Homo sapiens: one gene and its partner. The protein of the gene in region 2 interacts with the protein of the main gene of each other region in a biochemical or structural test. Each region holds a gene or a part of one and is shown on either strand. Other genes may lie near its edges. The genes, in order: PRKCZ and ADAP1.

Region 1 (3,805 bases), on a different chromosome or scaffold from region 2:
ACAAAAAATACAAAAAATTAGCCGGGCGTGGTGGCGGGCGCCTGTAGTCCCAGCTACTCGGGAGGCTGAGGCAGGAGAATGGCATGAACCCAGGAGGCGGAGCTTGCAGTGAGCTGAGATTGTGCCACTGCACTCCAGCCTGGGCAACAGAGCAAGACTCCGTCTCAAAAAAAAAAAAAAAAAGTCAAAGAAAAAAACCCAAATGGCATTATATTAGACATCCCTAAATTCTCTGGCATCATAGGATTTTAAACCATTTTAAATCCCCCAGCTAGTCGGCAGACACCCACAGCCAGGAACAGCCCCCCAGAGCTGCCCACCACAGACCCCGCCACTAACCATGAATGATGAGGCCTTCATCCCTGCACTGACGGGCCAGGCGGAAAGCCTCTTCCAGCTCCATCTGGGAGGACACCGTGCAAGGGTCACCTGGGTGGGGCAGGAGACGGTGCTGACGTCGCCGAAGGCCCGAGGCAAAGGGGGCTGTGACGAGCCCGCTCAGCACACCAGACAAGGGTCTGGTGGGGGGCAAAGTCCCGATGCTCAGACTGGCCACCTCCTGGCAGGGTCGGGAGGTCCAAGGACGGCCGTCCACACTAGGGAGTCACCTGGCCCCCGGTGCAGCGTCAGAGCCACCCCGGAAGGGAAGTCAGTACACCTGCAGCCCTGGGCACCACTTGGAGGGCTAAGCAGTGAGCGGGGCTGAGGACACTCTCCGGAGGTCAGTCCTGGGCGGAGGGAGAGCTCCTTGCCCTCTATGGCTGGAAAGGGACATGGAGGTGTACAGAACCCAGGCCCTGCAGGGCTGTACCCAACCCAACGGGGGCGCTATCAGGCTCCACCCGCACGGCCGTGTCCTTGGCCAAGAGCTGCCCGCCAGTCCCTGGGAGAAAGGGGTCTCTCTGGACGTCTCCCAATCCCCTTGTTTTTCAGGATGTGTCTAAGAGACAGGAGGTGGACACGGCAGGCCCTGGCTGCTTGTGCCCTCCCCGTGGTCCCTAGAATATGAAGAGCCCATCCTTTCAGAAGCACCTACCGAAAAAGGCCAGGACATGAGAAAGGAGGTCAGAGGAAGAGGTGAGGACCTGCCCAGGGTGGGGCAGGGAGACCCCCTGCAGGCAGTTCAAGACCAGAGCCCTTCCTAGGGGCATCTGGGCCCAGGTCCTTGATAAGCATCTGTGGCCAACCTCTTTCCCACCATCCCCACTGGGGAAAAGTTGGCGCCAACAAGTTTAATTCCACAGCTTTAAGTCTCCCCACAGAATTGGCTGAGCACACTCCGCACACAGAGGCTGCCCTGGCGAAGTCCCCTGAGGCTGAGGATTCTGGCCAACATGGGACAAGGGCTACCTTCGCTGTCCACCCACTTGAGGGTGAGCGGGTGCTGCTGGTGCAGACGACACATGTCTCTCACTTCCTCACAGAGCTCCTCGAAGGTCGTGGCGGCGTCCACGCTGGTGATGAAGATGTCCCTGGGGCAGAGGGGACATGGGCATCTGTTACCGTGGGGCATATTTGAATCAAATTAAAAAATGATTACCAACTAACCAAATCATTGATTAGATAAATGAAACTTTCCCCAAAGACAATATGACAGCCCCACCCCCTCCCCCCTCCCACACACAAAATAGAACCATTAACCATAACCATAGTTTAAAAAATGGCCACCATTGCCAAGCACAGTGCCTGACACCTGTCATCCCAGCACTTTGGGAGGCCGAGGCGGGTGGATCACGAGGTCAGGAGATCGAGACCATCCTGGCTAACACGGTGAAACCCCGTCTCTACTAAAAATACAAAAAATTAGCCAGGCGCGGTGGCGGGCGCCTGTAGTCCCAGCTACTCGGGAGGCTGAGGCAAGAGAATGGCGTGAACCCGGGAGGCGGAGCTTGCAGCGAGCCGAGATCGCGCCACTGCAGTCCAGCCTGGGCGACAGAGAGAGACTCCGTATTAAAAAAAAAAAAAAAAAAATGACCACCATCAACTTCCTTGCACAGAGAAAAAAGCGCGACCTACCTGGCTGGAAAGAATGAGGACAAAATGGGAGAAAAGAAAGTGCCCTCTTGTGGGAGGTCCGGCAACGTTACCTGGTCGGGCACTCGTTCAAGTTCACCCAAATGTGGGTGACCCCGGGATGGGCGCGAGCCGGGTCGGTGCAGGCCGCCGGCTTCACTAAGGTAAAGGAAACCAGTCAGACCTGCCCCCAGACCTCGACGGTGCCAGCGGTGAAGTGGCGGGGATTAAATAATTCCATAATGAAAGGCCACTCTTTAGACCCCGGAGTGGGCACTGGGTCCGTTGCTGCAGCCACGGCAGAAGCCCCGGCAGATTTTTTTTTTTTTAAAACCGAGTCACACAGAGTCAGTGTGTTTTATCTTTTCAGCCCCAGACAGGACCTGAACTCCAGGGGCTGGGGAAGCTCACGGACTCCCAGGCACCCTTTGAAGGCTGGCACTTCCCTGCTGATAGGGACCCGAGGTCCCCCCTCACCTCCTGCACTGAGCAAGAGCTGGTCTCACCCTGCGTGGAGGGGAGGGACCACCACAGGGCCCAGCTGGTGTTTCCTGAAACTCAGAGCGGGAATCACACCCTTGTGAACACACTGAATTTTCAGAAAAATCTACGGCTTTCTGACACCCACAAGAGCGCGGGGCAAGAGCACAGGGCCTATAAAAAGAAGCCTGAAGGGGTGTGAGATGTCCCAACCAGAGATACAGGCTCTGCTCTTCGCTGACACTGCTGGCTCCCCATCAAGGTTATCTGAATTCATCAGACAAGTTTCAAGAAACAAAGTTCTCATCCCAGACAAGAACTCCAGTGCAAACAGAACACAGGATCGGTCCACAGCCGCGGCCCTGACACAGCAGCCCAGGGCCCACCTGCCCCACAGGCCTCACCCAGTCACCCTGGGCCACCTGGGCCTGGGGGACAGACGCCCCAGCTACCCACCCCTTCCTGCTGGAACTGGCCACCCAGCACCTGCCCCCAGTGCCCAAGCACCCCACAGGAACCAACCTGGCTGGTCTTCGCCACAGCCCACAGCATCATGGCAGATTAGGAAAGTAAGGAATGGAGGGGGGTCACACACCCATCACCCTGGGGTCGCCCCAAGCTGACATCCACGCCTGCTGCCTGACCTGGAGTCCAAAAGTCTGACCACCAGGAACTCCAGAGTGGGAGTCGGCCATCACTTCACCTTTGACCTCTTCCTGCCCCACGCCCCTACCCCTACAGTCCTGCCTCCAGTGGAAGCCAGTTTCCGGCCAATCTAGAGGCCAGGTGGGTGGCTCCAGTAAAACCCCAGGGCTTGGGAAGTGTCAGGCCACCACCTCCAACCCTATCCCAATCCTGAATCAAACAGCTGCCCTGTGCCCTTCAGCAGGGGCGTCCAGGACTCAGCACCCAGCAGCCAGCTGGGCCGCCCGGGAGAGACTCCTGCGTCTCTGTTGGCCTCAGCACCAAGCCCTGGGCTTTGCACACAGAAGCTCCCTGAACACAAACGTTGTCTGAGCTGGGCCAGGCGCGGTGACTCACGCCTTTCATCCCAGCGCTTTGGGAGGCCAAGGCGGGCGGATCACGAGGTCAGAAGTTCGAGACCAGCCTGGCCAACAAAGTGAAACCTCATCTCTACTAAAACTACAAAAGTTAACCGGGCGTGGTGGCGGGCGTCTGTAGTCCTAGATACTAGGGAGGCTGAAGCAGGAGAATTGCTTGAACCTCGGAGGTGAAGGATACAGTGGGCCGAGACCACACCACTGCAGCCTGGGCAACACAGCGAGACTCAAAAAAAAAAAAAAGTCTGAGC
Region 2 (2,945 bases):
TTTTGAAATTCTCCAATGCTGTGCGTGTGTTGGCAAGGGTCCCTCGTCTTTTCATGTGCTGGGTACAGGCCCAGGGTGGCCCTTCCAGTCCAGTTACTGGTTTCCATGAGGTCAGGGATTGCTTTCTTATCTAATGATTTCCTCCCTCCACTTTCCCTGTTCTCATTTTCTGAAACTCCTGTTATTGGTGCTCTTAAACTGGTTCATTTTTCTTCTACTTTCTGGGAAATTTCTTCAACTTTGTCTCCAACACTGTGTTGAGGGTTTTGTTTCTGCTGTCATGCATTTAGTTTTTCAGAGAGCCTTTGGTTCTTGGAGTATTTATTTTTCTTTCTTTCTTTTCTTTCTTTTTTTTTTTTTGAGGCAGAGTTTCGCCCTTGTCACCCAGGCTGGAGTGCAGTGGTGCAATCTCGGCTCACTGCAACCTTTGCCTCCCTGGTTCAAGTCATTCTCCTGCCTCAGCCTCCCGAGTAGCTGGGATTACAGGCATGCGCCACCACACCCAGCTAATTTTGTATTTTTAGTAGAGACGGGGTTTCTTCATGTTGGTCAGGCTGGTCTCGAGCTCCCGACCTCAGGTGATCCACCTGCCTCAGCCTCCCAAAGTGCTGGGATTACAGGTGTGAGCCACTGCGCCCAGCCGCAATTTTTGTATTTTTAGTAGAGACCGGGTTTCACCATGTTGGTCAGGCTGGTGTCCAACTCCTGATCCTCCAAAGATAATTCCCCCCGCCCAGGGCAGACGCTTGGCCCCCAGCTGTGGGAGCTGAGGGAGTTTCCGCTGCAGCCTGCAGGGTCACAGAGCTCCAGCGTGGAGTGCACCAGGCATGCCCCGTCTGCCCGGAGCCCCAGAGTCGGCTCCATCTCCTGCTGGGGGAAAAGGGGCGATTTTCCAACCAGTTCTGCTTAGAGCCCCCTGCATTTCCGGGGGACCTGGAGCTGTGAATTCCCAAGGCCTTTGGGGCAGTGTGGTGTGGACGGGTTCAGCTTCCTCTAGGAGGAGGGAGGGCGGGGCCAAATGGGACGGGGCGGGCCGGAGGAAAGGGTGGGCGGGGGAAGGAGGGGAGGCGGGGCCTCGGGCTGGTTGGGTGGCGTGGGTGTGGCTTGTGGGCGTGGCCTAGGAGGAAGGGCCACAGGAGAAAGCAGGGCTGGAGGCCGATGAGGGGCAGTCGGGGTGGGTGGGGCTTTGCTGGGTGGGGCCACTGGAAGAGGACAGGGCAATCCCACTGCTATGGGAGGAGCCTGGGGCTACACCATCCTCCAGCTGGTGCTGGGCCGGGTGCCAGCTGGAGAAGCCGTGACTGGATTGGTCCAGTGCTGGGGGCTTTGCCTGTGGGACAAAAGTCAAGGCCAAAGGGGCTGGGGAGAAGCCTGAGGAGGGATGGGGCTCCCTGGCTCTTCCTGGGCAGGAGAGGGTGCAGCCAAGAGTAAAGATGGGCACCTTTCCAGAGGTCACCAGCTCCAGGCTGTAGGCTGAACAGGAGGCCCAGGGCGCAGGTTATAATGTCATGGGGCCAAGGGTCTGGGCAGACCCCAGGAGGGGCGCTGGGTCTAGGGGCAGGGGACAGCCAGGCTGAAGTCTAGACCCAGAGGGCACCCGACGTGGGGCTGGGTGCCAGGCCTGGGCTATGGGCCCTCTGTTCCAGGGTGCTGGCCCACCCCACGCTCTCCAGAGGACCAGGGCGGCTCCCTGGAGAGCAGTTTTGCTCTCTGCCCACTCTCGGTAGGGGCCACAGCTCCAAGGGCGTTTATAAACAGATGAGCCTCCCTTCTCCCACCACCCCAAGACTTGCTTGAGCTACAAAATAAGGATCTTCATAAAAATAGCACCATCTGAAAGGAAGGCAAGTTGGCCCAGGCCCCAGCAGCACCAGGGCCACAGAGTGAGCTTGGATGGCAGCCCCCGACCCTGTCCAGCCCGGCCCGGCCCGGCCCTTCGGCCCTTCGGCCCTTCTCAGGACTTCGCCGGGGGAGGCTGCACCTGCCCTCCCGCAGAGGGGCAGCCCCTGTGTAGCAGCCCCGGCCTCAGCGTGGGCACAGGGGCCAGGCCTGCGGCAGGACTGCTGGGAGCTGAGGTGCCGGGGAGGAGGAAGGGGCTGGGCTCTGGGGGAAGCGGCCCCTCTGTGGGGACCCCAGCCCCTCTGTGGGGACCCCAGCGCTGCAGCCTCCTCAGCCCAAGCCTGTGCCCACCTTTGCCCCTAGGAGATTGTGGACTGGTTCAATGCACTCCGAGCTGCTCGCTTCCACTACCTGCAGGTGGCATTCCCAGGGGCCGGCGACGCAGATGTGAGTGGCGGCCCTGCGGTCAGCTCCAGGGCAGACAGGGGTGGTGGGGTGGGGGGTGGACGGAGCCCTCGTGCCCTGAGTCTGGGATGATGTTGAGCCCTAGGGTGGGCCTGGGACTGGCCAAGGGCTCACCCTGACGTGCCTGCAGCCCTCCTGCCTCACTCTAGAACTTCAGCTCAGCCAAAGGGGAAAGCGGGGAGGGAAGGGGTGGCAAGCAGAGGCAGAAATGTGGATCCTGCGGAGGCTAAGCCAGGCCTGGGCCCTGACCTGGTGGCCCGGGGTGAGGGGAGCACAGAGGGGCACAGCCAGGGAGGGGCTCGGCCTGAGCTGCACTTCTGAGGTCCCCTGCCTGGTGTGTCCTGCCCTAGCTGGTGCCAAAGCTCTCCAGGAACTACCTGAAGGAAGGCTACATGGAGAAGACGGGGCCCAAGGTGGGTGTGCCGCACGTGCGGCCTGGGGTGGCCTGGGGTACGCCATGGTGGGTCTCGGACTGAAGTGCAGCAGCCTTGCCAGCTGCCGCCTGTGTTTTAAACTGGTGTCTGGTGGGTCCTCACAGCCCCTTGTCTGTGCCTGGCCGGGGTCCCCGAGGACTCGGGCCACTGTCCTAGGCTTTGGTTAGACCCTCCCTGCCCGCTCACGTCTGACCAGCTTCCTCACCC

What was found.
Region 1: the proteins of ADAP1 (region 2) and PRKCZ form a complex in vitro, tested with the Homo sapiens proteins (one study listed by BioGRID).

The regions. Positions count from the first base shown.
Region 1 is NC_000001.11:2,053,108-2,056,912, reverse strand, and holds part of PRKCZ (protein kinase C zeta type), read right to left. Parts: intron 1,473-3,805; coding exon 1,351-1,472; intron 430-1,350; coding exon 340-429; intron 1-339. UniProt on the Homo sapiens protein: Calcium- and diacylglycerol-independent serine/threonine-protein kinase that functions in phosphatidylinositol 3-kinase (PI3K) pathway and mitogen-activated protein (MAP) kinase cascade, and is involved in NF-kappa-B activation, mitogenic signaling, cell proliferation, cell polarity, inflammatory response and maintenance of long-term potentiation (LTP).
Region 2 is NC_000007.14:899,874-902,818, reverse strand, and holds part of ADAP1 (arf-GAP with dual PH domain-containing protein 1), read left to right. Parts: intron 1-2,202; coding exon 2,203-2,286; intron 2,287-2,654; coding exon 2,655-2,717; intron 2,718-2,945. UniProt on the Homo sapiens protein: GTPase-activating protein for the ADP ribosylation factor family. Binds phosphatidylinositol 3,4,5-trisphosphate (PtdInsP3) and inositol 1,3,4,5-tetrakisphosphate (InsP4). Regulates the incorporation of CD63 and CD9 into multivesicular bodies.